Homo sapiens: one gene and its partners. The protein of the gene in region 3 interacts with the protein of the main gene of each other region in a pairwise test. Each region holds a gene or a part of one and is shown on either strand. Other genes may lie near its edges. The genes, in order: EXOC1, IMMT, TRAF3IP1, CFAP58, ANKRD36B, ERV3-1 and MEIS3.

Region 1 (3,500 bases), on a different chromosome or scaffold from region 3:
AAGTCCTACCTTATCTGCAATTCCTTCCATATCTCACTCCTTAAATTCTCAATAAACTCACTTTTGATTAAACCTTTTTAGCACTTACAGTCCACAGTTCTACAATTAGCAATTTATTACATACATTGCTAATGTACATTAGTCTTAACTCCTTACAAAGAGTAAGTACATTAGTTTTAATTCCTTCTTACAAGCATCTTGAGGGTAGGAACTATTGCTTATTCTTATATATGGTAGACAGTGAGTACATAATAAGCATACAATGAAAATTCTGTGATTGCCAAAGAGGTGTACCATATTATTTTAATCAATTTTCCCAGCTTGTCTCCCTACCAGGAATAGAAATACCCATGTTTCTCAACAATTTTGCTAGGTGACCTGATGCACTGAATGCAACACTAAGAAAATCTTTCTTATGTGTGGGATATCTTCTTCCACCGTTTTTGGCACACCCCAGGTTGTCGCAGCGTTCTGATTTTTAACATGCATCACTCACATGTAATAACACATATCAGCTTTTCAGAAATGGGAAGCATTCATTTTAAACGAGGCCATTAGTTTACAAGGCAAGAAGCAAAATCATAAATAACTGCATGTTACAACAAACAGTTAAGGGTACAGAAAAGACTATTGTTTACTGGCTGGTATTTTCAATACTATCTAACAAATGTGGATAACATAATTGTCAACAGTGTCATTTTTAAAAACTAAGGAATTGTATAGAAATAGATGTTATTGAAGTAAGTACCTAACAAAAACATGAATTAGTATTTCCTATGTGACATTTAAGCTTACTTTTTTCTCGACACTTTTCAGTCAAGTGGAATGTTAAGGGAATCTCTCTGATTCCCCCCTACCGTGCTTTTAGTTAGGTGGTCTTCCTTTACACTCCCACAGTCTCGCTGTCATAACATTTATCCCTCTTGAGTATATTATTTGTTTGTCTCGCTTCCCTAGACTGTGAACTACTAGAGGACAGGATTGGTCTCTCATTTATCCCAAGTTAATGTCTGGTATGTACCTCAATCACCTGGCAATACTAAATAAATGAAGGATTAATATTACTACTATTACTAAATGAAGGAGTAATATTACTATTTATTACTAAATGGAGTGAAAAAATGACAGAAAGAAAAGCAAGCAGAATGAGATTAAATGCTTTTTTGGCCAAAATAGTCTCTACTATGGGACATTTAAAAACTGCTACGAATGTGGTTAACAGGTAGCTTAAATCAGTAAGTTATAATCTGTAAAGATTCGGCTGCTGTTAAGTTTAGCAAACTTTATAGAAAAAAAAAAACAGAATCAGAGAAGCTTGAGCCAAATTTGATGTACTCACAGGAACCGAAAGAAAGTAGGACCTGTTATAGAGTTGAAGGAGGGCCTGAGTAAACTAATTGGAAATAAAATATAGTAAATACAATTGTTTTAGAATATTGCAAAGTGAAAATAAAGTAAAAATCCATTGTTTTCAGGCAGTATTTCTTGATGAACGAGATATTCCCCCAATTTTTTTTCATTCTATAACTCTAATAAAATAAAAGGGACTTTTAAAAGAGATGAAAAAATAAGAAACCTAATTTATTGTATTAGATATTAAAATGGCTTTTATTCAAATCCCTCAAAGGTACTCTTAATATTATTAATAACAATATTATTACCACACTCTTAATTATAACATCCTTTTCCATATAAAAATATAGGTAAAGCATTTATATGAAGATTAGATCAACTGAAATTTGCAGTTGAGCTAGTCATTTTCTTAACAATTATACTATGTACTAAGTACATAGAACTTACAAAACATTTAAAACACTGAATCAAGTCCTGAGTCTCACCTCAAAATACTGAAAAATAAAACAGGTCCAATAGTAAATATCTAACAAGTTTGGACTTACTTTATAAATAAAAATATCTAAGTAGTATATGCAATTCATATGCATAGTTATTTGATTTCTAGAATCAGAGAGCATCAGCTGAAAGGAACTAGACTGTCTACCAAAAGAGGCAGCTGAGGCCCAAAGTACATCTATGAGCAAAGAGGCTCCTATTTCAAAATCTTAAAATCAAATATGTGAAGGAATTGACTGCAACCCCAATTAAACATATTAACATTTTTGTGGAAATGTAAGGTTAATACATAAATAAGCTATAGGAACATGCTCGTTTTAATAATAAAATAAAATTACCTGTTGAACAAAAACATTGTTGAGGTGACTGGCCAGTCTCCGGGCAAAAAGCTCTCGCAAATCACTGAATCGCTGCTGTTGCTGTTTGACTGCCAGAAGCAAGTCATGGCCTGACACAGAACGACATTTTGTGACCAGTTTAATGGGTAAAAAGATTTCCTTGATGTTTAATGGAACATTAAACGTATCTAACGTTTTGAAGAACCCAAAAGTTTTATGGGTGTATTCATTTACATGATAAAAGTTAAGCAGGAGAAAAATGGGATTTCACAGTAGTTCTCAAAGTGTGGTCTTGCCTCACCATCGCCTGGGAACTGTTAGAAATGTGGATTCTAAAATCTCAGCCCAGATCTGCTGAATCTGGGACTGGGGCCAGGCAATCTATGTTTTTAACAAGACCTCTAGGGATTCTGACGGACACTCAAGTTTTGAAATAATTGCTCTCGTCTAACCAAAGCACCTACTTTCTGCTGGGTTCTGTGGATAGTACTAAATAAAGATCATGGTGTTGACTATAGTCATTGAGGACAATTAGAAGGAGGAACTGAAGTAAAAAAGTTCCTAGTATCAATAGAAATAAGTTGGGAAATCAGTGAAACTTGAATAGCTAATAATGTAACCCTTAAACCACTTGTCTCATGTATTTCTTGTCAAAACCTTTATAACAAGTTACAGGCTTAGTCTCACATTCTTGGTCACATTTTTGTCATTTCTAATGAACATACCTGGTCGAAGAGCTACATTCATGCACTGCAGAAGGGCATCAGCAGCATTGGTGCAGGCCTCAATGCCTCTGGAAGAAGCAAGATCTCCTTCCTGAAGGGCCTTTATATGACCTTTGGCCAAGTCCATGTGGTTCTAGAATATATGCAAACACACCATTTGCATGTGTAATTTTGGGAAATTTACAGGCAAGATGCTATTCAGTCCTATCATTAGGTCTTTGGAATTATTTTAAATCCTGTTCTCACAAGGAAATTAAAAAATGTTTACAAATGGGTTTTATATATCATCACTAGTTTTTTTTTGTTGGTAATTTATGATCATACTTACCACAAGGAACTCTATCTCAGATAGGAGTTTTACATTATTAGTGTTACTAAGATGAATTAGGTGGTTGCTTTCAGAGATCTGATCCATTTGTTCTTTTACACTTTGGAGCATTTCCTCATAACTGCTCAGTTTCAATTCAATCTGATCTACCTCCTTTAGAGCCTCATCTAGCAATTTCATCAGGATGTTGACTTGTTTTTCAGATGCCATGATTGACTGGATGTTAGCCTACAAAGTTAAAGACCAAAACAAACAAAC
Region 2 (3,500 bases), about 150 Mb from region 3:
GGTAGATCACTTGAGGTCATGAGTTCGAGACCAGCCTGGCCAACATAGTGAAACCCTCTCTGTACGAAAAATACAAAAATTAGCCAGGTGTGGTGGTGGGCACCTGTAATTTCAGCTACTTGAGAGGCTAAGGCAGGAGAATTGCTTGAACCTGGGAGGCAGAGGTTGCAGTGAGCAGAGATCACGCCACTGCACTACAGCCTGGTGACAGAGCAAGACTCTGTCTCAAAAAAAAAAAAAAAGGAATGGATGCTGAGTTGGGCCACATGAACTGACCCAAATAGAATTACAAAGCATGTAAATGTCAATGACATATCTGGGGGCCAAAATTTATCACCCTTGTTGAAGGTACTCCTGCTTACAGAAGTCCAAGGAAAACCTACCCTGTAACAGACACAGATTCCCCTACAACCAAACTAAATCCTAGTATTACCAAATCCAACTCTTCACAAACACTGCTTTGTGAAAGTTATTCAGTATATATTAGAAATTACATGTGCACCTGTAGCTTCTTGTACTAGAAAAAACAAAAGCTGGAATTCATTCTTAACATTCCAAAATGTGTTCATACATTTTTCCAATTATTTTGTACATTAGCTAATACTCTCATCTGTTAACTGCTACCATTAGATTGTAAAATCTTGACTGCAATAGATTTTACACTGTCTAATCACCATGTGCTACACATTATGTGCGTTAGGAAGATGAAATACCACCTTGTGTACCCTTATACCCAAGTAGTAACATGGCATTTAAAGCTTCCAATCCGTGTCCTTCTGAGGGATACTGGTCTACTTGGGTTTGAACCCAACACCCTTACATCACGCAACTTCTAGCCTTCCCATATCGGTAACCAGCAAATTAAATTTCCTGGGTGGTTTCCACTTTGCTGACTGAACTCTGATATTTAAGTATTTTTCTTGGACTTTGAATAAAATGGAATTTTCCTTAAAATTTCAAAGGTTGTAGTTTCTTGCTACTAACATCAGAGGTCTAATTAAACTCTTTTGTAATATAAGTACATACGACTGAAACAATGTAAAGTGTGTGTAAAATTTTTTTTAAAACTACAATTATGATGGCAAAGTAACTTTACTGACCATGTATGATCCTGATCCTTAAGATTAATAATTTATGCATTTTACTTTAATTTACTCCTTAAATGACTTGGAATAGAGATACATTTATACATACTGAATAACTTAATGTAATTATAAAATAATGTATTAAGTCCCAGTATTAAATTTTGAAAAATCAATGTTATTACTTCATTCTTTGAAGTGTTTCGCATAAATAATCATAAACATTTAAAATAGCAGGTGTTTCAGGGAACATGAGAGCTCTCTGTATTATTTCTTAAAACTGCATGTGAAGTTTGAGAAGTATCTTAAAAAGTTTACCTATGGAAATAGCAATTTTAAAGCAAACAACAAAAATATTTAAGTGCTATTAAAATATGAAAGCAAATCTGAACTAATTCTTGCGCTGCATCGGTGTTGTAAGATATAGTAAAGCACAATGTATAAAATTCATTCTAAAAAACTTAAAGGCTTTTTTCAGTTTGTTTTTTAAACATAATTACTCTAAGGCCAAGCACAGTGGCTCACGCCTGTAATCCCAACATTTTGGGAGGCCGAGGCAGGCAAATCACTTGAGGTCAAGAGTTCCAGTCCAGCCTGGCCAAAATGGCAAACCCTGTCTCTACTAAAAGTACAAAAATTAGCCGGGTATGGTGGCGGGAGCCTGTAATCCCAGCTACTCGGGAGGCTGAGGCAGGAGAATCGCTTGAACCTGGGAGGTGGAGGTTGCAATGAGCCGAGATCGCACCACTGGACTCCAGCCCGGGCGACAGAGCAAGACTCCGTCTCAAAACAATAACAAAAAAAGATTAATTATTCCAGACTATCTTCCCCTAGTGAGAGAAAGCCGATATCATACGGAAGAAAGCAGTCTGTTAAATATTACACTTCTCTCCACCCTCGATTTTTCTTTTTGTCCTCCAAGTCATGACAGCCAGAACACTTCTAATCATTCATTGGGCTCACCTCAGAATTGTCCATGGCGGCTTTCAATATGTTGGAGTGTGCATTGACAGCCTGGACCGCAGCATTCTGAGCTGCAATAGCCTGCAGAGTGACACTTGCAGTTTGCCTCAGAGCATCTTCTAAGCTCTTGGCTAGAGCTTAAAAAAAAAAAAGAACAGTTAAAAAACAAATCCTACCCCCATAAATGACTTTAAACTTTTGCTGTTCTCCTATCTAGTCTTCCATTGCATTTCCCAAAAAATTTAAAAAGGAACAAAATACATGAGACTCAAATTTAGGGAATCAAAGTTTCACTTAAAAGTATGGTAAAGGCCGGGCGCAGTGGCTCATGCCTGTAATCCCAGCACTTTGGGAGGCCGAGGCGGGCGTATCACAAGGTCAGGAGTTTGAGACCAACCTGACCAATGTGGTGAAACCCCGTCTCTACTAAAAATACAAAAATTAGCCAGGCATGGTGGCGGGTGCCTGTAGTTCCAGCTACCTGGGAGGCTGAGGCAGGAGAATCGCTTGAACCTGGGAGGTGGAGCTTGCAGTGAGCCGAGATCATGCCACTGCACTCTAGCCTGGGCGACAGAGCGAGACTCTCTCAAAAAAAAAAAAGAAAACATGGTAAAATACTGATAATTTAGTCTGGATGATAAATCTATGAAGCTTTATTACACTTCTTTTTTTTTTTTTTTTTGAGACAGAGTCTCGCTCTGTCGCCCAGGCTGGAGTGCAGTGGCGCGATCTCGGCTCACTGCAAGCTCCGCCTCCCGGGTTCACGCCATTCTCCTACCTCAGCCTCCCGAGTAGCTGGGACTACAGGTGCATACCACCACGCCCAGCTAATTTTTTTGTATTTCTTAGTAGAGACGGGGTTTCACCATGTTAGCCAGGATAGTCTCCATCTACTGACCCCATGATCCGCCCACCCTGGACTCCCAAAGTGCTGGGATTACAGGCGTGAGCCACCGTGCCCGGTTTTTTGTTTTTTGTTTTTTTTTTTTTTTTTGGAGACGGAGTCCCACTCTATCGCCCAGGCTAGAGTGCAGTGGCACCGTCTCAGTTCACTGCAACCTCCGCCTCCTGGGTTCAGGCGATTCTCCTGCCTCAGCCTCCTGAGTAGCTGGGACTACAGGTGCCTGCCACCACGCTCAGCTAATATTTTGTATTTTTAGCAGACAGGGTTTCACCGTGTTAGCCAGGATGGTCTCGATCTCCTGACCTCGTGATCCATCCACCTCAGCCTCTCAAAGTGCTGGGATTACAGGCGTGAGCCACCGTGCCCAGCCTACTTTTTCTTTTCTGTATATCTAAACTTTTTCAAAATAAAAAGTGTTTTTTTTTTTCAAAATTATTTAAAGAAGGGTAATGTATTTCAAATGGGAGAAACAAGGTTTAGGACACTATAGCCCCTTTTACATATTGTGGCTATAAACTCAACAAATCCATCAGCTTTCTTCATTTTAAACA
Region 3 (3,500 bases):
TTCTAATATTCAAATTCTGACTATTTTCTGAAGTGTTAATTCCTTTTACTTTAAATAGTGGAGTAAACTTGTCTTAATAGTTTAGGCCTTGTTATTTACTGATTAATTCTTTTTATCAAAATGAAGAAAACTTTGTTCAGATTATAAACATAATATGGTATACCAATGTAGAAAAATTTAAAAATGCAAAAAAAAAAGAACAAAAATTAAAAGCACTGGTAATTCTACTGCTTATAACTTAAATGAATATTCTTCTAGAACCCTGTATATATATATATGCATATGTATATAATTGTTAGATATATTACTGTACTGGATTGTTTCACACAAAAGGGAGCTGACATGTGACTGTACCATAATTTACTTAGTTACTGATTGATTGTCAGTATTACCAGTGACGATGGGTGAACATCTTGACATGTGTCCATTTCTCCTCTTGGGTTGTATTTCCTTTAAGTGCTCAGTTGATCAGCCTGCCTTTTGAATTTTATTTCTGAAGTAGTTGAACCAGTTTGTATTCCCTGGGTTTGAGTGTGCCCATTTTCCCAAATCTTCACTGAGTTTAGATATCAGACATCGATTTTCTCTTCATCAACATGATTGATGGAAAAATTGCTCATTTGTATTTGCAATTACAAATGTATTTGATTGCAAATAACTGCAAATACAGATGCAAATAGTATTTTCAAATAGTTATCTATGTGTGTTTTCCTTTGTGAATTGCTAATTGATTGTCATTTGTTTAGAAGGAGATGCTGGACCTGCTGGCCAAGATAAGTCTGAGGTGCCAGAGACTCCAGAAATTCCTAATGAGCTTTCATCCAACATCAGGTCTGTGTGCTTTGAATCCCTTTCCCTCAGCAGAGTGATCACACCTAGGACACTGCTGTGCTTCTCTTTCTGGCTGCTGCTATTTATTTAGTGCTTGAGCTAACTTATGAGGAATTACTTATACAAAGAATACAAGAAGTATATCAGTTTTCTGTACTGGAGTTATATCACTATATAGTGATATAATATTTTGGAGATTTAGGGGAATTCAAAATTATAGCTGAATTATGTGATGTTTTGATTAGTGACAGTTGTTGGTATTTTGAAATTACTGAAAATACAAGTGGAAAGATGGACACTTTCTGATTGGTCGGGTTACTGGGACGTTCCTCCTCTTCTGCAGAGTAGCGTGTCCTAACCAGCACATTGATTATGGCTTGGAGATGAGAGTTAACATTCACCTGGGCTTTCTTTTCCAGTTTGAAATGTATAAGCCTTTCATACTCCTTTTTTGGTTTTCCAATATTTGGGTTTAGAAGAATTCCTCGGCCTGGGAGTGCAAGACCAGCCCCTCCCCGGGTCAAACGGCAAGACAGCATGGAGGCGCTACAAATGGATAGGTAAGGCTGGCTCAGCAGGGCAGTTCCAGCCACACAGTGTGTTCTCCAGTGGGCATGGTGCCTCCGCTAAGAGAAGGGGGAGGGAAGCAGCACATGGTGCTGGAAACATGCTATTGAGGAACAAAAAGTGAGGGTAGGCCCTCGCCTCACACCATAGGCCAACAGACATGTCAGATGGATGAAAGAGAAAAACCATGCATACATGTAAAATACATCTTCACATCTATGGGAAAATGTTGGACTGCATTTCTCTGACCCCTAGATTGAAGACTTTCTAAGCGTGAAAACAATAGGGGAATTAGGAAAAAATAGGGGAAAAAAATTAGGGGCTTAATTGCAGAAAAATTAAAAATAGAAGGTGATCAAAATGTTATAAGCAGGCTGGGCCTGGTGGTTCACGCCTGTAATCCCAACATTTTGGGAGGCCGAGGCGGGCGGATGGCTTGAGGTCAGGAGTTTGAGACCAGCCTGGCCAATGTGGTGAAACCCCCGTCTCTACTAAAAATACAAAAGTTAGCTGGGCGTGGTGGCGTGTGCCTGTAGTCCCAGCTACTCAGGAGGCTGAGGCAGAAGAATCACTTGAACCTGGGAGGTGGAGGTTATAATGAGCTGAGATTGCACTGCTGTACTCCAGCCTGGGCGACAGAGTGAGACTATCTCAAAAAAAAAAATAAAGTCATAAGCAATATAAAGACAAACAACAGATAGGATGGATCAGAGTGGGTTTCAGATCAAATAAGAGGCAGGGATTGGAGGCAGGAGTAGATGTGTTTTTCTAGGAGTTTTGCCACAAAGAGAAGGGAAGGAATAAGACTAGAAAGTGGGAAAGGTGGTGTCAAGGGGAGTTATTATTTTTCTAATGACGGGAATGATCCAGTGGAAAGGGGAAATTGATGACGTAGGCGACGTGGGACAGGGGTTTGGTGGAGCAGAGTCCCCGTGTGGGTGTGGGAACGGGCGCGGAGGTGGAGTCGGCACATGGTGTGATGCAGATTCTTAAGGTGATTTTCTGGTACTTATTTTTCTCATGAGCCGTAAGAGGGTCTGGGGGAAGAGGAGTGTCAGAGGAGAGAGGGGCTGGGTGAAGTCGCTGTGCACGAGAGTGGGCTAGTGAAGAGACTGGAGCAGAGGTTTTCCTCTAGGGGTGATCCTACTTTGGGGACACTGGGCCATGATCTGGAGACATTTTCTGGTGTTCTGATGAAGGGGAGGGGTTAGGGCAGGGCAGTTGCTGAACCTCCTACAATGCACAGGACAGTCTCCACCACAAAGGAGGATGGGCTGCCTGCCCATAGTGCCTGGGCGGAGGCCGTGGCTGACAGCTGACTTCAGGGCAGCATCTGGTGGACTTGGGCGTAAAGAGACAGAAGATGGTGTGGCGGGGCCTGTTCTGCAGCTGCAGTTGGCTACACCTACAGGCACTGGGGGGCACAGGCTGTATTAAACAGGGCTCGGCTGTGCCAAGCAAGTGCACCGAGAGAGAAGGGAAGGAGTAGGAGTATGTGGAAGCGCCACGGTCATGACCAATGTGGGATTTATGCCAGTGAGTGAGGGAGGAGCCCTCGGGGTGAAGGTCAGGAGGAGGCATTAGGATTGAGAGGCTGAAGGTGCCGGATGGATAGAAGGATTGTTGGAGTCAGGTCCTAGGGCGGTGAGCTGGGAATATAGATAGTGGTGGTAAAGGAGTGGGGCGCTTGGATTTGAGGTTGGAGCTTGCTGTTAGTGGTAGTGACAGGGGTGCCCCTGGGAGTGGGCGTCGAGTGTGGGAGGTGGGATCATCCCAGCAGGGTTCAGGGACCCAAGGCCAGGATTTTGGAAGGATCATTTCTCAATACTTGAAATCACAAGTAAGACAGGAGCACCGTTGGTGAGAGTGGCGGGTCCAGGAGGACTGGGTGGGACCATGGGTTGGCAGCTGATGGCAGCAATGATGGGGTCGAGGGTGACAAGATTTAAAGTTGGCAGTTTTTAGGGAGAGTGATCTGGAAGCCGAAGCAAGCATAAGGAAATTACTGACCTTCCCTCTGGGCCCGTGACAAGAGGCCGGTGGGAGGAGCAGCAGCTGCAGCTGAGGGCTGTGGGGAAGCTGTGTCCTGGAGAGCAAGGCGG
Region 4 (4,168 bases), on a different chromosome or scaffold from region 3:
AGGGAGTGAGGGACACACAGTGAAGACACTGAATTACATTCAAAGGAGTACGGATTGCATTATTCTGCAGGCCACAGGGAACCACTCAAGACTTTTGAGCAAAGGACTCATAAGGCTTGCAAGGCCTTACTTACGTTTGCAACATTATGTTTTAATATTCTACTCTACAAAGGGCCTTGGCATCAACACTCTCTTGCTAAAAGAAACCAACTGAAACAATCTGTAGTCCCAATAATAAAGTAAAATTTCAATTCACCCTGAAGATTTTAAGGAGTCTAGTTTACCTTCTGTTTTGACAAGCCCGTCTTGCCCAATATGGAAAAAGTCTACGTATTCTTGGTTTTCGAAAACACTTGTACTATTAATTAAATCTCTAACGATGACATGCAAGCAAAACAGTCTTTGTAAATTAAAATAAATGTAGAGTCACAAGCATATCTATAGCATTTTGTATAACAACTTTAGTACTAATTTTAAATTCACATAGGTTTTTCTTCCTGACTAAAAGCAGATTATTGCAAAGACCACAATGTAGTAATTCCACAAAGGAGGAAAAACCATATTAAGGAAATACGGTGTTGCTGCTGTTCTGTTCTTCTCCCTTGTTGATGCTAAACATAAGCACACACAAAAATTTGTCACTGCACTGTTCTTGGTTCCATCCCTGTAAATGGTATTAACGTCAACACTTGATCAACAGCCTAATGATTTGTTAGCAGTCCAAGTTTTACCTGTTTACCTGGCACTTAGCACAGGAATGGAAAAATACCAAAGAAGGAAAAGTTTTAAAGAAACTTTTAGGAACAAAAGAGATTTGTTCCTATTGTCATTAAAAGCAAAGGAAAAATAATCTCTTAGCTTTGGCCAATAAACAGTTGATATTTCCACTGTTATAACATATAATGGTATCTGTTTCAGAAGGATGAAATCAACGTGAACTGATCAGAAAGGAACTGTGGCATTTCTTTATTCTTCACCTATTCACTGATTGTTTGCTATGTGCCAGGCACTGTCCTGTCCTAAGTTCTGGGAATATCAATTAGTGGGGAGAAGGAAAAGGGAAAAGGAAAAGAGAACTGCAATATAAGATGAGGCCAGAGGGGAAATAGAGAATTGTGAAAGCAGAATCGAGAAAGTTGGCTGAGGTCAAGTAAGAAGAAAAGTAGAAGAAAGGAAGAAACGAGAGGAGTAACAGAAAGAGGGAAATGGAAATAACTAATCCATAATAGTGGAGCAGCTTCTGAGGCCGGCACCTGGGCAGGGTTCCTCACAGAAATATGCAAATATATCCTGAATAGGGCAGAGCCAAGGAAATGAGGGGCTGGTGCCTCTGGGAGGCTGGGGCTTCCCTATGGGGAATGAAGAATGAAATAAACAAAGATGACTGGTGGGAGAAAAGAGGAGAAAACACTCAAAAGCAATAATGGGACAATAAAGAACTAGAAGGAACAAGAAAGGAAATGGGAAGAAAGAGATACAAATGACTATGGGTAATGGGGAGAAGTGAAGTGGCCACAGCAGCATGGATGTCAGAGAGAGATGTGAGTGATGGAGCCCAGGCGTGAGGAAGATGGATGATATGAAAGAGATCGTATGATAAGGAAAGGAAGGAGGTGTTGACCACGGGAAGACGGAATTTATAAAGCTAGACTGGAGATGGAGGAAAAGCAATGATGAGGGGATGTGAATGGTGCAGAGGAAGCAAGAGAGTAACTAGAATGGGGTGGGGAGGGGGTGGAGCACGATGGTGCTGAAAGATGATGGGGCTTGGGCTGGCTTCATGGGAGTGAAAACTGGTCAGTTGCACAGGGCCCCTTGCTCAGAAAGGCCCCATTCTTGGTTGAATGCTCTGCTGTTCTGTCTTAAAATTATTTGTAATTTTTGAAGAGACTTTGTGTTTTCACTTTGCATCAGGCCTTGCAAATCATGTAGCTGGTCCTGGCTGGAACAGACCGTGGGATGGGTGATGGGGGAAGGGCTCTGATGGGGCCATGAAGGATTTGGGTAGGGCCATAGTGGATGGGGACTGTGAATGGCAAGTAATGACAGGGACCCGAGGCTCTTGAGGTTATACGTGAGGGGGCTAAGGGGCAGGCAGGGAGTCACTGAAGGGTTGCAGAAATAACCCCTCATTGGAGAGGCTGAAAATGGGGTGTACTGTAATATGGGGGAGTGGTGGGGTGATACGAGATGTTAACACAGGAGTCAATGAACACACGGGGCAGAGGTGATGGGCAGAAGAGCCTTAATGAAGCTGTGTGACAGCAGGTGATCACATGTTAGGAAATCAGGGTGTGACAGGTGGACAAGGGCCATTGATTGGGATGACAGCAGGCATCTGTGAAGCTTTCTTCCCGGTTTCCCCTGTGAGATAAGACATCTCCAATATTTCTGTGTGAGCCTCTCTTATGGTATCACTCCATGACTAAAAATCTAGGGCTGGGTGCATGTCACGTGTGGATTTCAGAATTCATTAATTTTCTACCGCACTTAGCATAGCGCCGATGCCACAGTGGGGATAGTGGGGTGTCCACACAAATGAAGGAGAAACAGGAGGTAAAGAGGCCAGAGCCAACGGAGAAAGGCGCGGGAGTGAGTGAGGGTGCAGGGGAATAAGATGTTGATGGGGGGAAATATTGGAATCACCGTTTGTGACAATCGTCAGTAGGAGAGGGACAATGGGGAGGGGTCAAGGGAAAGGCGACAGAGGGGCGCTGACTCCTGACCTCAGCCATCCTGATGCTCTCTGGGGGCGGCCTCAGAGGCTGCTGTGGAGATCGCAGGAGCTGGGCCGGAGTCTGGGAAAGAAGCTAAAGGCGCGACGCGCTGTCTCTATCGCCCGCCCCGAGCGGAAACCCGCGCTCGGCGCGTCGGCCCGTCGCCTGGCAACGGACACGCCCTCTAGGGGCGCTAGCGGGAATTCGAAAGGGGAGGAGCTTCTGCGGCTGGCACCTGGGCAGGGTTCCTCAGAGAAATATGCAAATATATCCCAATGGGGCGGAGCCAAGGAAGTGAGGGGGCGGTGCCCCTGAGAGGCTGGGAGGAGTCCCACGGTGTGGGCAGATGGAGACACCCAGGAGAAAGAAGAGGGCGAATTGGAAGAGGCCACCCAGAAAGGACGGTGTGTGACACTAGGGAGCCAAGCATGGAGAGCCGAGGACTAACGCTTGGAAGGAAATGTGGACCAGAAGGTTCCGGATGAGGGAAGGACTGGCGGCTACACTCTGCCTTCCGAGACAACGAGGAATAATCTCACTTCAGTCAGTTCAACCCTTGTAAAACAGCTACTGTGTGCAAGACACGGAGGGAAAGCTGAAGTAGAGAAACCACAGACGCTGTCTTCAAAGGGTTTAATCTAATATTAGTGATGAGAAAAATAGGGTGCAGAGCTTAAGGCATCCTGGAAAAACGTATGTAGCGCCACATCGCGAAAATCTCTCTTCTGGGACCCCTCTCCCAAAAACGTTTCTTCGCCCTCTTCTCCCCCTTCTGCCTCCACTCTTTCTGGACTTCAGGTACAAATAGTTGAAATAATTATACTCCTTGGTTCATGAAATGTGTAAGACTCCTCTCTGGTTTTATTTTCCCCCTTTATCCCCATCCCTACTCCCAACCCCTATCCTCAACCCCATAGGCATTCATGCTGCTGTGCTTCCATATGTATTTTTGGGAAATGTACAAAATTTTTATCAGTGTATTTTTTAAAAATGTTTAAATAATGCTACTGGACTTTGGAGATTATCTTATTTTCTACTTTTTTCACTCAACATTCTTTTTAAGGATCTGTCCTCGTTGCGATTGGCAAGCATATAGTTCATTGCTTCTGAGTACTGCACAGCGTTTCATAAGGGGCATCTACCACACTTCACTTCCATTCCCCAGGTGTTAGGTAACAAGGCCGCCTCTAATTCTCCAATACATCAAGTAATACAGCCATGATCGTCTTTGTCCGTGGTCCCTTAAGGACCTCTGTGCAAATTCCTCTGAAATATATGCCAAGGAGTAAGATTGTTAAAGTTATAGGGATGCACAGGGACATTTGCTTATGCAGCTGCGTCCTGCACAAACACATCCAGCCATGGGGCAATGGAGGCTGAAAAACTGTCTCTACTCTCTTTCCCGTGCCATGTGCCCTACTGGAGAAAGGTGTGCACTTTTTATTCTCACA
Region 5 (3,500 bases), about 140 Mb from region 3:
TTGTTTATTGGTATCTTCTGTGAACTTTTAGCCTCTTCAGAGGCAGAGGGAATATTTTTATTTGTGCTTGATTATTTTATTATGCATAGATTTTAGTATATACATAAGTTTTTATTATAGTTTTATTACATATAAGGAAACAATTTTAAATTAATTATTTTAGTTTATCAGTGTCCTCATGAAAATGAAAATGAGCAAATATAAGTGATTATCACTATTCCAAAAGCACTGCTTTAATTTATAGTTTTTTTCACAATAAACTTCCCAACTGTATGTATGCATTCTTTCAATCCAGTTATTCATCAAGCATAACCTGAATACCTATTATGTAGCAGACACATTCCACCATCTCTCAGGACTCTTCCACCCTTAACAACTTCATGTTTACCTGCCCAGCCTGAGCAAGCTGAGATTTAAAATGGAAGCATTAGGACTGAATCCCAGTTGGATCTTTTATTCCTTTTTTTTTTTTTAAACAAAAGCAATTCTGAAGTTAGAAAATAGTGAAAGATAACCTTTAACTGCCATTTCAAAAACTTATGACAGTCTCAAATACTACTATTAATCATTGCAAATACCTAATTTACATAACATTCTGTAAGTATTGAAAAAAATGAGCCATACCTATTCATTTGAATCCTGAGTTTTCTTTGGATTATTTTTTTTTGAAAGTTGAAGTAAGAATTACTTTGTTTTAAAAATTTGTTTTTTTATTTTTGCCTTCTTTTTCCACAGTACTTCATTTAGGTGCCAATTATATGAATAGAACTGCCTGTTCTATGAACTGTATCCCACTTAATGTAAGGCATCACGGATTGGGTGATGCCACATTACTTTATATATCGATAAGATAATGTTTAAAATGTTGCCAGTTATAAATGTAATAAATAATGAATTGTAAACAGTTTTCCAATGTCAGGAGATGTTAATATATAAGAGAATAGTAGCTTATATAAGAGAATAGTGAGAAAATGAGCATCTGAGAATGACTGAAATACAATGATACATCTAATCTTTAATAGATACCTCAATGTAGATATGATTGTATCATTTTACTTAATTAAAATGTCTTTGTCTTTGTAAGTAGTGATATCTAAAAATTATTGAGCTGTTATTTGTGTTAGAAAGTGTTCTAAATGCTGTGCATAGATTCTTATGTAAGCATCACAGCAGTGTTCTGTGGGCTAGCTACTATTCTCTTACATATTTTATTGATAAGGAAATTGAAGCAAAGAAAGGCTAAATAACAGCTAAGTGACAGAGCTTACAGTAAATTTTAAGCCCCAATTAAACTGAATCCAAAAGCCAAGCCTTTTCTATTAAATAGCCTGCTCTTTCATTAATGTGGTGAGTAATAAGCGCTAACAAATGTTGTACTTTCTTCACAAGAAAATTACATATTTGTTTTGAAGACAGAGAAATAACATGCTAATTAATGCTTACAGTTACATGTTTTAAAAAGTCCTGTCACTCTCACAGGACTGCCCTACATTTGGCCTGTGCCACTGGCCAACCGGAAATGGTACATCTCCTGGTGTCCAGAAGATGTGAGCTTAACCTCTGCGACCGTGAAGACAGGACACCTCTGATCAAGGTACATAGTAGCTGACTCTTTGAGCATGAGATGGATTTGGTTGAAGTACATAGGATAAAATGAATTTATCTCATTGGAATACCACCATATAACTAGTAGGAAATCCTACGGAGTGTTTATTTTGATTTTTTCAGTATTTGCATGTTTCTCGGTCTAATACTGACAGGCTGTACAACTGAGGCAGGAGGCTTGTGCAACTCTTCTGCTGCAAAATGGCGCCGATCCAAATATTACGGATGTCTTTGGAAGGACTGCTCTGCACTACGCTGTGTATAATGAAGATACATCCATGATAGAAAAACTTCTTTCACATGGTACAAATATTGAAGAATGCAGCAAGGTATAGGTCAACCAATGTTATTTTCAAACTATCTGAAATGCATTTATTTTAACATTGACACATGTAAGGGTCAATTTTTCATATTTGGAAGCTCAAACATTCCTTGAATGAAAATATTTTGAAATGCCTTAACTGTCTAAGATTTTACTTTAAATATTGGAACTTTTAAAGAAGCATTATAGGGAACAGCCTTTTTTCATGCACTTATGGTAAATAACTATAAAAACAAATGAATTACAATAAATTTATAATTCATGACAACTGAATTTGGGAAAGGTAATAGTTAAGTGTTTTTCCACTAAATTACTTTTTTTCTAATCAGTGTGAAGTGACACAGGAAAGTAAAATTGTCCCTTATAAATAGGCTTTATTTTAAATGTCAAAGAAAATTAAAGAATTTCACAATAAATGTACATGTTGTTGCTGTTGACAAGTGTTGTATGTGAAGGTGATTTCATTTGAAAGTGATTCCTCTGTGGAAAGGCTTAAGAGGGAAAAATGAAGAAAAGGAGAGCAATCAGAAATGCACAAGCTAATTTGGAAATTAGGTAATGAGGGAAAATACTGTGGAGAGGGTTTTTGTGTGTTTTGTTGTTTGTTTTCAATTTATATGTTTAGACAAAGATCGCTTCAGTTTTGGGGATGATTATTCTTACTTTGGGAAAGAGTTTGTGAGTTGTGAAATTGCCCAGGGATCAATTTTGGTAAGACTCTGAGGAAACCAGGTTGGCAGTGAATAGTGGTGATGAAGCGGCACACAGTTCAGCAGAGAGAAGAACACATAATTAATGGACATTATTCAATTCTGGCAGAAACAGCCACTCAGATAAGCATCTAAACTCTACTCTCAAGTCCAGAATGTCTTGATGGGCAGGTGGGAGATACGGAGCTTATAAATAGTAAAATCAAGTTGGATTTTGAGCTTACTAGTCTCTTCCCTACCCCTACCCAGGAAAAGTAAATGAAGTCTTCAGTGAATGGCTCTATCTTTTGCTCTTTCCTCTTTTCGGCCAAATCCCAAACGATAAAGGGAATTTGCCACGTGGGTGAGAAATGAGACTGAAGTGATTATCAACTGTGCTGGTTCGCAGTTAGAATTGTGCATGGCAGTAACCTGGGGAAATTAAAAGCAAATCTCTAAGTCTAGGATATCCCCTGAAGATTTTAATATAGTAAATCTAATATTTACTATTAAATATTACTGGGCATGTATGTTTTAAAATATTTCCTTGAAGCTGGGCATGGTGGTGCCTCTAGCCAGAGCAACAGATTAAGACACTGCCTCTAACAGCAACAACACAACAACAACAACAACAATAAAACATTTCTTGGGACACTGATACGCTGCTGGTTAAGAACCACTGAATAGATAAGTGTAATATAAATTCCCATATCTCAAACACACAAAAAATCTCTAGAAGAGCTGGAGATAGGTGCTGCTTCCTTTAAATTTCTCCTTTCCAATAATATTGGCCTGACTTTTACCTGTCTCTACCTCTGTGGTTGGGAAGTGGAAAGGACTATTATTTGCAGTATCTATCAGCATAAGAATAACACCTTTTCTTT
Region 6 (3,500 bases), on a different chromosome or scaffold from region 3:
TACCATACTTTCTTTATCCAGTCTGCCATTGATAGGTGTTTATGGTGATTCCATGTCTTTTCTATTGTGAGTAGTGCTGCAGTGAACATGCATGTCTTTGTATCTTTATGATAGAATAATTTATATTTTTTGGGGTATAAACCCAATTATGAGGTGCCTGGGTCAAATGGTAATTCTGTTTTTAGTTCTGTCATTGCCACAATTCTTTTCACAATGGTTGAATTAAGTTATACTCCTACAGGCAGTGTATATGAGGCAGGAAATATAAAAGGAAAAACAAGTAAAGGGAAAACAAGTCCTTCCCTGATCAGTCTGACTCACTCCAAAGTCCTGCTGGAGCTATGATAACATTATCTGCAAGGCCAGGCAGGGACCCCAAAAGAATGGGCTCCAGGAGCAGAGATGAGAAAAACAAGTTCTCCTTATCAGTTTCCGCCTTGAAATTCTTTCCCCATACCATTATTCTTTGTTCTGCTCTCACAACTATTTTTGTAACTATTTCTGCAAGTTTGCAAAGATTTCATAAGTTCCTGTTTTTCTTTCTGTAGCACGGCAAGGTCACAAGACATGCTTAAGTAAGATAGGGTCATGTTGCAAATCCTGTTGTAAAACCTGTCACGGTATGATTAACTGTCTTTGTTCTGCTTCTGTAAGACTGCTTTCCTGTCTCACAGGTTTCATGCCAAAAACCTGACCCGCCCCTGTTGGTTGCATGTATAAAAGTCAAGCCCTGTCATTGTTCAGGGCTCAGCCTTTGGATGTTCATCGGCTGGGCTGGTGGTCACCTAAATAAAATCCTCCTGTTCCACCAAGTGGTCTCTCCAGCCTCCTGATTCCCACAACATTTTGGCGAGCCAGCCAGGAGGGGAGACTACAGGTTTACTGTCTCCTTTGGCTGTGGGACTGGAGCCCCGGGCTGGGGGAGACCCGTGACCCAAGGCACCATTGGGAGACCTTCAACCCGGAGGGGAGATTGGCTCTCCCATGACCCGGCGCCCCTCCCTGACAGTGCATTGGAACCTAAGGGGCTACAGGACGATTCCAGGACTTCACGCTACAGGACTGCAGTAAGGTTTGGGCCCAAGGCAGGACCCGTCCCATAAGGATGGAAGGGGAGCCTGATCACCTCCTGGGGTGTACCTAGTAATCCGACTCAGGACATGAGAGGGGCTCGCAAAGTTGGAAGAAACCTACACCCCAACTGACCCAGGACGTGAGAGTGGCTCACTAAGTTGGTTAAGAAAGGAAACTGGAAGTGGGGAGGTGTGTGAATAAATGTGAAAGAGATGGTTCCAAAAGGAACCAACATGCTGAGTGACGTGTGTGGAGCCACAGGTCTCTTAGCATAGACTGTACCATCTGAGTGAAGTGTGGAACCGACCGAGACTAGTGGCAAACATCCTTTGGGGCTACGGCATATGGCTTAGGGAGGTGCCCCACAACTTATAGATTGTGGTGGTCCGGGTTCAGGACTCATATGAACCCTCCATTAAATCTAAGAAGTGTCTGAAATACTCCTGCAAGGGACACGGTCTAATCAGTCTGAAATGAAAGGAAGAGTGAGTGGGTTCTGCCATAACTGGGAGGAAATGGGAGGGAAGTCATCAAAACCCATCCCATTAGAATGTATGTTAAGGAACTTTAAGTAAGATTATACAGGGGATTATGAGATCAAGTTGACCCCCCAGAGGTTGAGAACTCTCTGTGAAATAGAATGGCCCTCTTTCAATGTTGGATGGCTGGCCGAAGGAACTATAGATAGGGAAAAAATTGGCCGTGTATTTAAGGTGGTGACTGGGGTCGGAGGACAGCCAGGGCATCCAGACCAATTTCCTTATATTGACTCATGGCTAAATATAGTTCAAACTCAACCTGCATGGCTGCAGCCTTGCCTGGCTTCTTATTGCAAAACGCTCATAGCTCGAGCCAAGCCTAAAGTAAAAGAAAAATCAGCTTCACTGTCAGCTACAGAGACAAAAGGAAAGCCACAAGAAAAACCAGTTTTGCAGGAACCAGCAGAGGAGATAGAAACCCCTCCTCCCTATGTGCCAATCTATCCCCCTTTACCAAGGACGGCCCCTGAGCAGCCAGACTCAGATGGTGACACACTCCAGGCTACACCTCAAAGGGGGAAATCTGAGCCCCCACCTCAGGAGGTCAAGAAGGAAAGTCAGGATGATCAAGCAGGCCGCCTTCGACCTGGCCACACCAGAGTGTGGCAGATGCCCCTCCGTGAAACACGGGGACCTATCTATTATGATGAACAGGGGCAGGTTCAAGGGGGGGCAACCGACTTTTATTTACCAGCCTTTTTCAACCACTGATCTCCTAAACTGGAAACACCATACTCCCTACTCCCTCCTACACAGAGAAGCCCCAAGCCCTCACAGATCTGATGCAGTCCATTTTTCAGACACAAAATCCAACGTGGCCAGATTGCAAACAGCTCCTCCTGACACTGTTTAACACCGAGGAATGCCGAAGGGTGACCCAGGCAGCCCTCCACTGGCTGGAACACAATGCACCAGAAGGCACACTTAATGTCCAGGCATATATGCTCAGGGCCAATTCCCAGAAGCCAGCCTACACTGGGACCCAAATGATGCAGCCCAATTACAGTACCTACAGAGGTACTGGGAGGCACTCCTGCAAGGGCTAAAGGAAGGTGGGAAAAAGGCAGTCAACACGGGGAAAATCTTGGAAGTGCTGCAGGAGACTAATTAAAGTCCTGGTCAGTTTTATGAGAGACTCTGTAAAGCATTCTAGCTTTACACCCCGTTTGACACTGAGGCTACTGAGAACCAGTGCATGGTGAACGCAGAGTTTGTAGGACAGGCCCAGGGAGACATCAGGCGAAAGCTGCAAAAGCTAGAGTGTTTCACGGGCATGAATGCCACTCAGCTTTTAGAAGTGGCCACCAAGGTGTATGTTAACCGTAACCAGGAGACAAAGAGAGGCTGATCAGACTTAAGAAAAAGGCCGATCTGCTAGTGGCAGTCCTCACAGGAAGGGAAACTAGCATCGCGAGTGGGTGTGGACATAGCCATGGACATGGAGGGGTTCAGGCCAGGCAGAGACCTGAAAGTCAACCAAGACTATGTAGGAATCAATGTGCGCAATGCAAAAAGAGGGGACACTGGAAAGGTGAATGTCCAGAGGGCAATGAAGAAAATGACAGAGACTATAAAACTGGAAAACTGCCAGCCAAGGGCTATTGTGTCCCAAGGGAGTCAGATACCTACTTGATCAGGCTGGCAGGAACTGGAGAATATGAAGATTAGGCCAGACTGGGCTCCTTCTCTTTAGCCCCCCAGGAGCCCATGGTCACATTAGAAGTAGGAGGCCAGCTAATGAACTTTATGGTAGACACTGGGGCTGAACACTTGGTAGTGACCCAGCCCATAGGGCCATCATCCAAAGATCATACAACTATTGTTGGGGCTACAGGGGTCCCAGAGAAGAGGCCATTTTGTCAGCCAAGGAGGTGTGTCTTTGGAGGA
Region 7 (3,452 bases), on a different chromosome or scaffold from region 3:
CGGAAGCCTTGGAAGTGAGGGTGTGCCTGCCTAACCTGCTCATTTCCCATGGGACAGAGGACGTGATTGGACAGCCACAGCTGGTGAAGTGACGCAGGCGTGGCCCTGAGTCTTCATTCTCCCCTGCACACACATCTCTTGCAGGAATTCTGCAGCTCCCTCTAGTTAAGAGGTGGAGTCTTGGCCAGGCCTGGTGGCTCGTTTGTAATCCCAGCACTCTGGGAGGCTCCCAAGTAGCTGAAACTGCAGGCGTGCACCACCATGCCCAAGCAATTCGTTTGCTTGCTTCGTAGAGATGGGGTCTCACTATGTTGCCAGGCTGGTCTTGAACTCCTGGCCTTAAGTGATCCACTCGCCTTGGCCTCCCAAAGGGTTGGGATTATAGGCGTGAGCCATCGTGCTTGCAGCCGGCCAATCAGTATTCTTATTCGTGATTTACGAGCTTCAAATTGGTAAGAATTTGAAATCTTGGGATAGACACAAGAACTCCAGTTGGTGGCTCCGTGTTTTTAAGACTTTATCATTAAAAAAAAGAAGAAATTAGAGAAGGGAGGTAGGGGGGACAGGAGAGTGAAGGAATCTCTCCAAAATGTCGGATCCGGGCGACCCTCCTTCCCTGACTGCCCAGCCACCCCGTCCCTTCTCTGTCCTGGCGGCGAGGCCCTAGCCGCCATCTTCTGGGGACCAAGGCCCAGGAGCCCAGCTCGGGTCCCAGGCAGAGGTGAAGGCAGAAGTGGGGCTCAGGGCCTGGAGGCCTTGCCGGTGTCCTTGAGAGCCCTTGGATGGGCACTCAGGCCCCCATGTCCCAGCAGGGCCCTAGGGAGGTAGGCATTGAGCAGAGGGGCCTTTGGAGGTGGGGTCCTGAAGCTGGAGGACCAGGCGGGAACCAGAGGCAGGTGTGAGGCTGGGGGTCACAGCCGGAGGCTGGGTCTGTGGAGAGGGGAGGAGAGGCCAAGTCAGGAGCGGGCAGGGGGCCTGGCCCCACCCCAGCCCATCTGTGCAGGCCTCATCAGCCCCAATGTGAGGGGGACACAGAGAGAGTGGCTGGCGGGGAATGGCACAGGGATGTGGGAGGGTCACAGAGAGAAGAGACGCAGTGACGAGAAAGAGGGAGACAGAGAATCAGAGTGGAGGTGAGGGAGGGAGAGACCTACAGACAGAGACAGAGAACAAGGAGAGAGACAGGCAGAGTAGGACAGAGACAGACCTGGAGGGAGTCAGAGAGAACGACATGGGAAGAGAGAGAAGAAGTCATGAAGAAATAGACGAAATGGAGAGAGAGAAAGAGAGACAGGAGGCTGGGCGCGGTGACTCATGCCTGTAACCCCAACACTTTGGGAGGCAGAGGCAGGGGGATCGCTTGAGCCCAGGAGTTCGAGACCAGCCTGGGGAACAAAGCGAGACCCGTCTCTACAAAAATAAAAATAAAAATTAGCCAGGTATGGTGGCGCACGCCTGTAGTCTCAGCCACTTGGGAGGCTGAGGCCAGAGGATCGCTTAACCTGGGGAGGTCGAGGCTACAGTGAGCCATGATCAGGAGTGGAGAGACAGAAAAGGAGACAGAAAGGAGCAGAGAAAAGAGCCCACTGGGCAGCCAGGCAGTGGGATGAGAAGACCCCTCCATCACTACTGACCCCAAAGGTCCCCTGACACTCACCCCAGACCATCCCTACCCACACTTGGCCATGAAAGAGCTGAGTCGCCCACTGCCCTACCTGGCCTGGATACGCCTGCCCATCTCTCTCCCAGGCTCGGCCTCCAGCACCCGCCTCCATGCATAAGCCCTGTGCAGGCCTCCACTCTCATCCCCAGGGCTTTTCTGCTGGCCCTGAATTCATTAGCCACCTGTCCGGCCGCCTGCCTCAACCCAGTCCAAAGAGAACTTCCTCCTTGTGTGTAGGGGGCTGGGGCTGTCTCACAGCCACGAGATTTCCAAGCTCTCCTGGCCTTGGCACGTGCTATTCCCTCTGCAGATGCTCCTCTCCTGCTTCACTCCTCCCATTCTGCTGGTCTCACCTCCAAAGTCCTCTCCTCCAGGCAGCCCTCCTTGAATCCTCTAGTCTGGGTCAGATGCCCCCTCCTCCAGGAAGCCCTCTCTAAACACCTCCCCCCATCCCAGGTCCAACACCCGCCCCCTGTGAGCTCCTCCAGTTCCTTGGCTTCACCATCCCAGCCCTGCCCGTTCTGGGGCATCACCATCTGGGGATGGGTCTGTCCCCTTCACTAGACTTTGTGCCCCATGAGGGCAGGGCTGAGGCTGTCATGGTCACTGTTGTGTCCCCAACATTACCCAGCACAGGGCTGGGCACAGAGGGGCTCAGGGGATGGATGGACAGATGGATGCTAAACTAAGGAGTTAGGACTTTGTCCAGATGGCACTAGGGAGCCACAAATGGTTTAATCCAGAGAGAGTCAAACTCTGATCTGGGCTTTGGAAACTCTAGGCTGCCTCCCTACCCTGGGCCTTTGCACATGCTGTTCCCTCTGCTTTTGTGAGCAGGGTAGACCTGTGCAAGTGACCTCTTCTCTCTGAACCTCAGTCTTCTTATCTATGAAATTAAAATTGTTAATAGTCTCCCCTTTCGGGATCGTTGTAAGGACTAAATGAGAAGATGCTCTAAAGTGCCGCCATCATACCAGGCCACAGAAGACTCAAGGCCTGGGAAAGTCAAATAATGCCCCCCTTCCACATTACTCCCTACTCTGCCCAGTGGACTCCTATTCATCCTTCAGTGCCCCATCCAGAGGCCACTTCCTCTAGGAAATCTTCCCTGATACCCCAGAGATAGCTGATGACTCCCTCCTATGGGGAAACTACGTTTTATTGTTTGAACTGTTACACTGGATTGTCACTGGGGTTGCCAACTTCCCCACAAGACCAGAATCTTCTCAAGATCCAGACCCTACCTGAGGCATGTCAGGATGGAGTGAGGGCTCAATTTTTTTTTTTTTTTTTTTTTAGATGGAGTCTCACTTTATTGCCCAGGTTGATCTTGGCTCACTGTAACCTCCGCCTCCTGGGTTCAAGTGATTCTCCTGCCTCAGCCTCCAGAGTAGCTGGGACTATGGGTACATGCCACCACACCTGGCTAATTTTTGTATTTTTAGTAGAGACAGGGTTTTACCATGTTGGCCAGGCTGGTCTCGAACTTCTGACCTCAGGTGATCCACCTGCCTCAGCCTCCTAAAGTGCTGGGATTACAGGCGTGAGCTACCGTGCCCAGCCAAGGGCTCAGTTTATGTTTGGAGATGTATCATAGATGAATGGGTGTATGTAGGTATGGATGGATGGATGGATAGTGGGTGGTGGGTGGGTGGATATATGGATAATGGGATGTGTGGGTGGATGGATGGGTGAGTTGATGGGTAGGTGGGTGGAAGCCTGGGTAGGGAGGTGGGTGAATGCACAGATAAATGGGTAGATGTGTGGGTGGTTGGTCAGTGTGGAGGTA

What was found.
Region 1: the proteins of TRAF3IP1 (region 3) and EXOC1 interact in a two-hybrid assay, tested with the Homo sapiens proteins (2 studies listed by BioGRID and IntAct).
Region 2: the proteins of TRAF3IP1 (region 3) and IMMT interact in a two-hybrid assay, tested with the Homo sapiens proteins (2 studies listed by BioGRID and IntAct).
Region 4: the proteins of TRAF3IP1 (region 3) and CFAP58 interact in a two-hybrid assay, tested with the Homo sapiens proteins (one large-scale study listed by IntAct).
Region 5: the proteins of TRAF3IP1 (region 3) and ANKRD36B interact in a two-hybrid assay, tested with the Homo sapiens proteins (one large-scale study listed by IntAct).
Region 6: the proteins of TRAF3IP1 (region 3) and ERV3-1 interact in a two-hybrid assay, tested with the Homo sapiens proteins (one large-scale study listed by IntAct).
Region 7: the proteins of TRAF3IP1 (region 3) and MEIS3 interact in a two-hybrid assay, tested with the Homo sapiens proteins (one large-scale study listed by IntAct).

Annotation. Positions count from the first base shown.
Region 1 is NC_000004.12:55,870,648-55,874,147, reverse strand, and holds part of EXOC1 (exocyst complex component 1), read right to left. Parts: intron 3,471-3,500; coding exon 3,243-3,470; intron 3,048-3,242; coding exon 2,915-3,047; intron 2,300-2,914; coding exon 2,190-2,299; intron 1,394-2,189; coding exon of another isoform or gene 1,340-1,393; intron 1-1,339.
Region 2 is NC_000002.12:86,164,463-86,167,962, forward strand, and holds part of IMMT (MICOS complex subunit MIC60), read right to left. Parts: intron 2,183-3,500; coding exon 2,046-2,182; intron 1-2,045. UniProt on the Homo sapiens protein: Component of the MICOS complex, a large protein complex of the mitochondrial inner membrane that plays crucial roles in the maintenance of crista junctions, inner membrane architecture, and formation of contact sites to the outer membrane.
Region 3 is NC_000002.12:238,348,018-238,351,517, forward strand, and holds part of TRAF3IP1 (TRAF3-interacting protein 1), read left to right. Parts: intron 1-746; coding exon 747-831; intron 832-1,307; coding exon 1,308-1,391; intron 1,392-3,500.
Region 4 is NC_000010.11:104,352,465-104,356,632, reverse strand, and holds the start of CFAP58 (cilia- and flagella-associated protein 58), read right to left. Parts: upstream 2,801-4,168; 5' UTR 2,736-2,800; coding exon 2,727-2,735; intron 1-2,726. UniProt on the Homo sapiens protein: Has an essential role in the assembly and organization of the sperm flagellar axoneme. Required for the elongation of the primary cilium and sperm flagellar midpiece via modulation of the Notch signaling pathway.
Region 5 is NC_000002.12:97,583,378-97,586,877, reverse strand, and holds part of ANKRD36B (ankyrin repeat domain-containing protein 36B), read left to right. Parts: intron 1-1,479; coding exon 1,480-1,594; intron 1,595-1,760; coding exon 1,761-1,934; coding exon of another isoform or gene 1,935-1,940; exon of another isoform or gene 1,941-2,367; intron 2,368-3,500.
Region 6 is NC_000007.14:64,996,688-65,000,187, reverse strand, and holds part of ERV3-1 (endogenous retrovirus group 3 member 1 Env polyprotein precursor), read left to right. Parts: intron 1-745; exon of another isoform or gene 746-1,067; intron 1,068-3,500.
Region 7 is NC_000019.10:47,402,624-47,406,075, forward strand, and holds the end of MEIS3 (homeobox protein Meis3), read right to left. Parts: exon of another isoform or gene 2,805-3,452; intron 931-2,804; coding exon of another isoform or gene 791-930; 3' UTR 501-790; downstream 1-500. UniProt on the Homo sapiens protein: Transcriptional regulator which directly modulates PDPK1 expression, thus promoting survival of pancreatic beta-cells. Also regulates expression of NDFIP1, BNIP3, and CCNG1.